Homo sapiens: one gene and its partner. The protein of the gene in region 2 purifies or fractionates together with the protein of the main gene of each other region. This does not show direct contact. Each region holds a gene or a part of one and is shown on either strand. Other genes may lie near its edges.

The links.
Region 1: the proteins of SLC2A13 (region 2) and HIGD1A purify together in Homo sapiens (affinity purification with mass spectrometry; one large-scale study listed by BioGRID and IntAct). This does not show direct contact.

What each region holds. Positions count from the first base shown.
Region 1 is NC_000003.12:42,797,901-42,801,552, forward strand, and holds part of HIGD1A (HIG1 domain family member 1A, mitochondrial), read right to left. Parts: intron 1-3,652. UniProt on the Homo sapiens protein: Proposed subunit of cytochrome c oxidase (COX, complex IV), which is the terminal component of the mitochondrial respiratory chain that catalyzes the reduction of oxygen to water. May play a role in the assembly of respiratory supercomplexes.
Region 2 is NC_000012.12:39,759,952-39,763,603, forward strand, and holds part of SLC2A13 (proton myo-inositol cotransporter), read right to left. Parts: intron 302-3,652; coding exon 75-301; 3' UTR 1-74. UniProt on the Homo sapiens protein: H(+)-myo-inositol cotransporter. Can also transport related stereoisomers.

The sequences.
Region 1 (3,652 bases), on a different chromosome or scaffold from region 2:
GGGAGGTGGGGGGTCAGCCCCCCGCCCGGCCAGCCGTGCCATCCGGGAGGGAGGTGGGGGGGTCAGCCCCCCGCCCGGCCAGCCGCCCGGTCCGGGAGGTGAGGGGCGCCTCTGCCCGGCCGCCCCTACTGGGAAGTGAGGAGCCCCTCTGCCCGGCCAGCCGCCCCGTCCGGGAGGGAGGTGGGGGGGTCAGCCCTCCGCCCGGCCAGCCGCCCCGTCTGGGAGGTGAGGGGCGCCTCTGCCCGGCCGCCCCTACTGGGAAGTGAGGAGCCCCTCTGCCCGGCCAGCCGCCCCGTCCGGGAGGGAGGTGGGGGGGTCGGCCCCCCGCCCGGCCAGCCGCCCCGTCCGGGAGGGAGGTGGGGGTGTCGGCCCCCCGCCCGGCCAGCCGCCCCGTCCGGGAGGGAGGTGGGGGGGGTCAGCTCCCCTGCCCGGCCAGCCGCCCCGTCCGGGAGGTGAGGGGCGCCTCTGCCCGGCCACCCCTACTGGGAAGTGAGGAGCCCCTCTGCCCGGCCAGCCGCCCCGTCCGCGAGGGAGGTGGGGGGGTCAGCCCCCCGCCCGGCCAGCCGCCCCGTCCGGGAGGGAGGTGGGGGGGGTCAGCCCCCCTGCCCGGCCAGCCGCCCCGTCTGGGAGGTGAGGGGCGCCTCTGCCCGGCCGCCCCTACTGGGAAGTGAGGAGCCCCTCTGGCTGGCCAGCCGCCCCGTCCGGGAGGGAGGTGGGGGGTCAGCCCCCCGACCGGCCAGCCGCCCCGTCCGGGAGGGAGGTGGGGGGGGTCAGCCCCCCGCCCGGCCAGCCGCCCCGCCCGGGAGGTGAGGGGCGCCTCTGCCCGGCCGCCCCTACTGGGAAGTGAGGAGCCCCTCTGCCCGGCCACCACCCCGTCTGGGAGGTGTGCCCAACAGCTCATTGAGAACGGGCCAGGATGACAATGGCGGCTTTGTGGAATAGAAAGGCGGGAAAGGTGGGGAAAAGATTGAGAAATCGGATGGTTGCCGTGTCTGTGTAGAAAGAAGTAGACATGGGAGACTTTTCATTTTGTTCTGCACTAAGAAAAATTCCTCTGCCTTGGGATCCTGTTGATCTGTGACCTTACCCCCAACCCTGTGCTCTCTGAAACATGTGCTGTGTCCACTCAGGGTTAAATGGATTAAGGGCGGTGCAAGATGTGCTTTGTTAAACAGATGCTTGAAGGCAGCATGCTCGTTAAGAGTCATCACCAATCCCTAATCTCAAGTAATCAGGGACACAAACACTGCGGAAGGCCGCAGGGTCCTCTGCCTAGGAAAACCAGAGACCTTTGTTCACTTGTTTATCTGCTGACCTTCCCTCCACTATTGTCCCATGACCCTGCCAAATCCCCCTCTGTGAGAAACACCCAAGAATTATCAATAAAAAAATAAATTAAAAAAAAAAAAAAAAAAAAAAGAATCTTATAACTTCCAGCTGCACGACTCCTAAACCATAATTTCTAATCTGTGGCTAATTCATTAAACCTACAAAGGCAGTCTAGTCCCCAGGCAAGAAGGGGGTTTGTTTTAGGAAAGGGCTGTTACCATCTTTGCTTTATTTTTCTATTTTTGTTTTATGAGACAGGGTCTAGTTGCCACGCAGGCTGGAGCACGATCTCGATCTTTGCTCACCGCAACCTCTGCCTCCGAGGTTTGAGTGATTTGTGCCTTAGCCTAACAGCTGGGATAACAGGTGTGCACCACCATGCCTGGTTTTTTTTTTTTGTATTTTTAGTATAGATGGGGTTTTGCCATGTTGGCCAGCCTGGTCTCAAACTCCTGGCCCCAAGTGATTTGCCCGCCTCAGCCTCCCAAAGTGCTAGGATTATAGACGTGAACCATCATGCCTGGCTCCATCTTTTTTTGGCTAGGTCAGATCTCTTTCACTGTCTCAGTTATAATTTTGCAATGGTGGTTTCAATCACAGTGTAATTAGTTGTCAAAAGCCTAACACAGACAAGGTCTGAATTTAGAGAGAGTGATGTATTTTAGCTAAAGGAGGTTTGGCACGTTTCACAGAGAAACACTTGAGACTGGCTTTGAAGAAACTGCATAAATGGACTGGATAGAGAGATTAAACACTGTATTTATTTTAGGCCAGTATGTTTACTAGTTGCCTTCATATCTAATCATGAACTTCTCGGGCAGGTGCGGTGGCTCATGCCTGTAATCCCAGCACTTTGGGGCACCAAGGTGGGCAATCACTTGAGGTCAGGAGTTCGAAACCAGCCTGGTCAACATGGTGAAACCCCCATCTCTACTAAAAATACAAAAATTAGCTGGGCATAGTGGTGTGCATGCCTGAAATCCCAGCTACTTGGGAAGCTGAGGCAGGAGGATCGCTTGAACCCGGGAGGCAGAGGTTGCAGTGCGCTGAAATTGTGCAACTGCACTCCAGCCTGGGCCACAGAGAGACTCTGTCTCAAATTTTAAAAAATAAAAGAAAAAGAAAAAGAAAAAGAAAAAAAAAACATGACCTTCTCAAAGGGGAAGTTTATCACAAATCCTTTCATTTCCCTTCCCAACCCCACATTCTGACCACATTAAATATTTTTAAGATGCTCTCTATACCTCTAAGCCTTTGCACAAGCTGATTCCTCTACTTGTGAGAGTTTCCCTCCCTTTCCATCCCCTTCAGATACTCTTTCCTAGCTAACTCCTCCCATTTTTTTTTTCAGGTTTGGTTTTTCTTTTTTTACACTGAGTCAGAACATTATTTTAATAGTTACAAAACTTTTTTTTTAACAGAATCAGTATAAAATAGCAGTTGATTTCTCCATAATTATCAGAATTATTTATATTTGAGGTCTTGCCTAAGTGGGGCTGAAATCAACAAAAGGTCTTGGACTACTGGCTCAGAAATCATCCTAGGAAGCCCGCCCTGTTGACATTTGTCATGCTTAGCTCTTATGAGATGACCCGGTCCTTTAAAAAAAAAAAAAGTATCTCCGTTTATTCTGTTTATTTGGAGGTTTGAAGTGAATTCGGCAGCATTCATTAAACTCCTTCCAGCTCCTGTCATTTATCATTCTGACTACATCCATTTCAACTTTGCCTGCTCTGTTCTGAGTTGCTTTAACAATATTAAATCGTCCAAATTCTTTTCTCTCTCTTCTCAGAGGTTTTTTACTACTGCTGAGGTCTGGGCTATATAGTTTTTTATGACTCTGTCCCTACTGGCATGAGCTGCCATCAAAGACTCAAAGTTGTTTACAGGTTTGGCTGGCATCAATCTTCCCTGCAAAGGAAGCTGTTGGAACTGTAGTGTTTAATTAATGTACTAGTCTGTATCAACTGTCCACATCACCTTGAGTAATTCCTGGAACTCGGCGAACTCCTCACAGTTCACACTGCCACTGGGTGCCACCATACTGGACTCAGGTTCACATCTTAATTGACCTCCTCTCAGAAATTTTTGTCTCTTTAAGTTCGTAAGTGCTTTGGTTATGCAGTCCCATAGGACCTTGTACTTTCCTTATAACCCTTATAAGCACCAGTTTGTCTGTTTCTTTTGCTAGAATCCTTCAAGTCAGGGACCAATACCTGCTCTGCTTGTATCCAACTCCACTGCCTGGTGCAATACCCTATATATAATATGTACACTACAAATGTTTCTTGAATACATTTAAAAGTTACATTTCTCAACAACT
Region 2 (3,652 bases):
GGCAGTGAAGTCACCAATTGCTGTTCTTCTCCCCCCAGTTTGTTTAAATAACTAAATATATGAGCAGCTGAAAATTATTCCACATCAGAAGCATCATTGTCAGAAAGATGATAGTTACTTCCCTTTACCCGAATATATTCAATATATCTCCCTTCATCAGAATCTGAAGTGCCACATGTACATAGCCTGTTGTCAAAGAGTGATTCAATTTCCTCTAATTTTTTGCCTTTGGTCTCAGGAAGACAGCCATAGATGAAAAGGAGTCCCACAGCAGCAAATCCAGCATAGAGGAAGAAAGCTCCTGCAACGGAATATAATAGATACATGAATATGAATATATAGAGAGAGGCTTAAGTTGGAAAGATTACTTGATTTTGACTTTTTTTTTCTGGTCAGTCATGCATAATCACAGTATGAAATGGACCAAAAAATTACTATGAACCTGGTTTACTCCAATTGTTCCAACTCTGAGAATATGATGTAATGTATCTTTCTAAACTCAAGTTTAGAAACTCAAGAATAATAGAACAGGCTCAGATGTAAGTTTGGCTTTGAAGCCTTTCCTCCCTTCCCTGACTAGAGGGAATTATTCTCTTCCATGTGCTATCACAGCATGTTGTTGAGACCCCTAAAATAACAACCAAGAAATATTATAATTATGTACACACACGTATGCTTGCCTTGTCTATTACACTAGAGGCACTTTGAGGTCAGAAGAAGTTCCTTTCTTAATTTGTTTTTCATTTCCCTCCACTAGAATGTAAACTCCATGAAGTCAGAGAATTTTGTTTTGCTGTAAGATTATGCATGTCAATGCAGAACAGCCAGAAACACATAAATATTAGCTAGTTTGGTTTTCTAAGGGTCATGATAGCAAGCCTAGATGGATGAGATATATGAATGTATGACTTGTTTATATTCTCTACACATTTCCAAGATGGACTTTTAAAATAATTGAATTCCGACCAGCCTGGCCAACATGGTGAAACCTGTCTCTACCAAACACACACACACACACACACATAATTGAATTGCCAATTTGAATATAAGAAACTATACTTGTACTTTTGATGGTGGAAAACAACAAAGTAAAATGGAGCCCCTGTCTAATTTTAGGCTTTCAGTCCAGACCATCATGTGTATGAGATGGGGGAAGTAAGATGAAAAACTAATGTGACAATTGGCTGGAGAAAGGATATCAGACTGGGAGTGGGAAGAACTGAGTTTAAGTGTTGGCCATGTGACTTCTGGATAGTCATTTAACCTCTTCTCTGGGCCTCTGTTGCCTCATTAAGTAAAATAAGGGGGCTTCTCAGCTCCTACTTAAGTGTTGGCAGTTTATGATTCTGTAAATCTTACAGCCAAAATCAGGGGCATGTATAGGAGATATAGTTAAGAGATGGTTGAGAGAGAGACTTGATCTGTGTAATGGGGAAAATAATTCTAGCTTTGCCCAACTGTAAAGAATAGAAATAATGTATGTTATCATGCCCATTAGAATTCTGAATATCAGTTGCTCAAAAAAGTGATGCCCAGATTGTTAAATTCTACTAAATGACCAGGAAAGGAAGAGTTGCTATTAAGATACAGAATAAGATTAGTGTGACTAATTAATTGGGATGTTTTTACAAAAAGGGTGATACTGATAAGCTAGCTCTTGGAGAATGGGGGAATTTTGACAAAAAAAAAATGAAAGGAGATGAAGTCCTGTGTTCTGAGTACAGATATGCAAGACTGTGGAGGTAGGAAGAGAAATGGAATCTTTAGCAGGGAGGGACAAAGACGGGATAGTAATTATGATGAAGATAAAGAAAAAATAAGTACAGATGGTAAAACATTTTAGATTAAACTAGGCTTCTAAACTACAAAATCTGTAACAGCAAACCCAGTTTGACTTTTAAATATAATAGTATATTTTATCTTCATCATTATCTTTCACAATTTGGGAACAGTAGCATAATTAGAAGTAACAAATCAAATCTGTCAGCGCTAAACTCACTCCTATAGTTAAAAAACATTTGTTGGGTTAGGAAGATTCCTGAAGTTGATTACAGATTCTTTCTTGTGACCTGGATTCCCAAAGCTGAATAATATCAAGGAATTGCTATTAAAATACAAGACCGTTTTACAAAATCTGAGGAATCCAAAGCACGCAAATGCCAAAACTGCCTACTCAGTGTGGGTTCCAATGGTTAGACCTGTGGCTAAGTCGTGGAGGAGTGTGGGCAGACCTGGGAGGCTGTGACCTGGTCCATGTCATGGTCAAATCAGTCACTATCTCAGTTTCTCATTTATTCCTCCCTTGGAGTGAAAATGGCAAGAAAAAATGTCTGTAACGAGTCCATCAGGACTATTGAACAGTTAGATATTCCTCACCTTTATTCTTCTAAGGATTTAAATCTTATTAGAGCCCTACATTAAGTTCCAGATTAAAACAACTATTTAATTGAATTACACAAATTGACTACCTCAAGAGAGAAGCTTTGACATAATGCCCCCCAAGGGATCTCTTTAGCCACATGTGCTGTATATAAAATGGCATATTGGTGATATAGCAATGATACTTTTTAGTAATAAACATTATTGAATGGGGGCACAAGGCAGACCTGTGTAAGCAATATGGTTGAGGAAGGAATCAAATTTTGAGATCTTATGAAACAATAAAAAAGGAGGCAACAAAGAAGACATAACTATTTCCAGAGGAATACACGATTAGGATGTATATTTATTAAATGAGGAATATAAATGCATAGCTTACATAAACCAGTAACATGTGGATTAAAATGAGACACAAAAAGGGAGAAAAACTAGCCTGAATGAACTATTTTTCTACTACTAGAGAGTAGTAGACCAAATGGACCAGTGCTCTGACATGAGAGAAGCTTAATGCAAAGCAACACACTTTTAACTGTTTATTTTTGAAAGAATTCTGCTTATGCCCTATTTAAATTTCATTACTGTTGCCTCATTTTTCTCTGGTTTTCTGGCAGGATAAATTCAAGAAAGAGGAGCTTTGCTGTCAAAAGTATAATCATGTAAACTTTTATTATTTGGTCTATGCCTTTCTATGAAAAATGCTTTCTCAGGATGCGAGCATATACTTAGGTCTTCAAATATTTAAGTGTTCTCTAGAATCAGTAAATACGAGGAAATATTTATTGTGCTCGTATTTATTATGTCATGAAGATAAGTTTATGAATTTATCGAAAAATTTTAATTGCCAAATGGGATCCAGCTGAATATACTAAATATATATCCAGTTTAAAATGCCAGTGCATTTCCTTTCCAAGAAAATAAATATTTCAAATGTCTTAAGTGGTGATTAGGAGAGAGAAGAGTTTTATGAAGATAATAAAAGCATTAGATAAATACCATTAACTAAAAGCAAATACCAGTTCAGCATGGTCAGAAGAGATGGGGAATAGATTTTTATAATGTTTCATCATATTCACCATTCATCTGCAAAATTTATCCATGTATTTATTCATTTGACAAACACTTTTTGGTGCTTATCAGGTGAACAGGATGCCTTGGCAGGAACTGGGAATGTAACAATGAACAAGGCACAGTCCTGGCCCTCCAGGGATTTATAGTCTACTAGAGAGAGCTAAGGGCAGACAAACCTGTTCTTGCAAAGAGAAATGATAAGTGG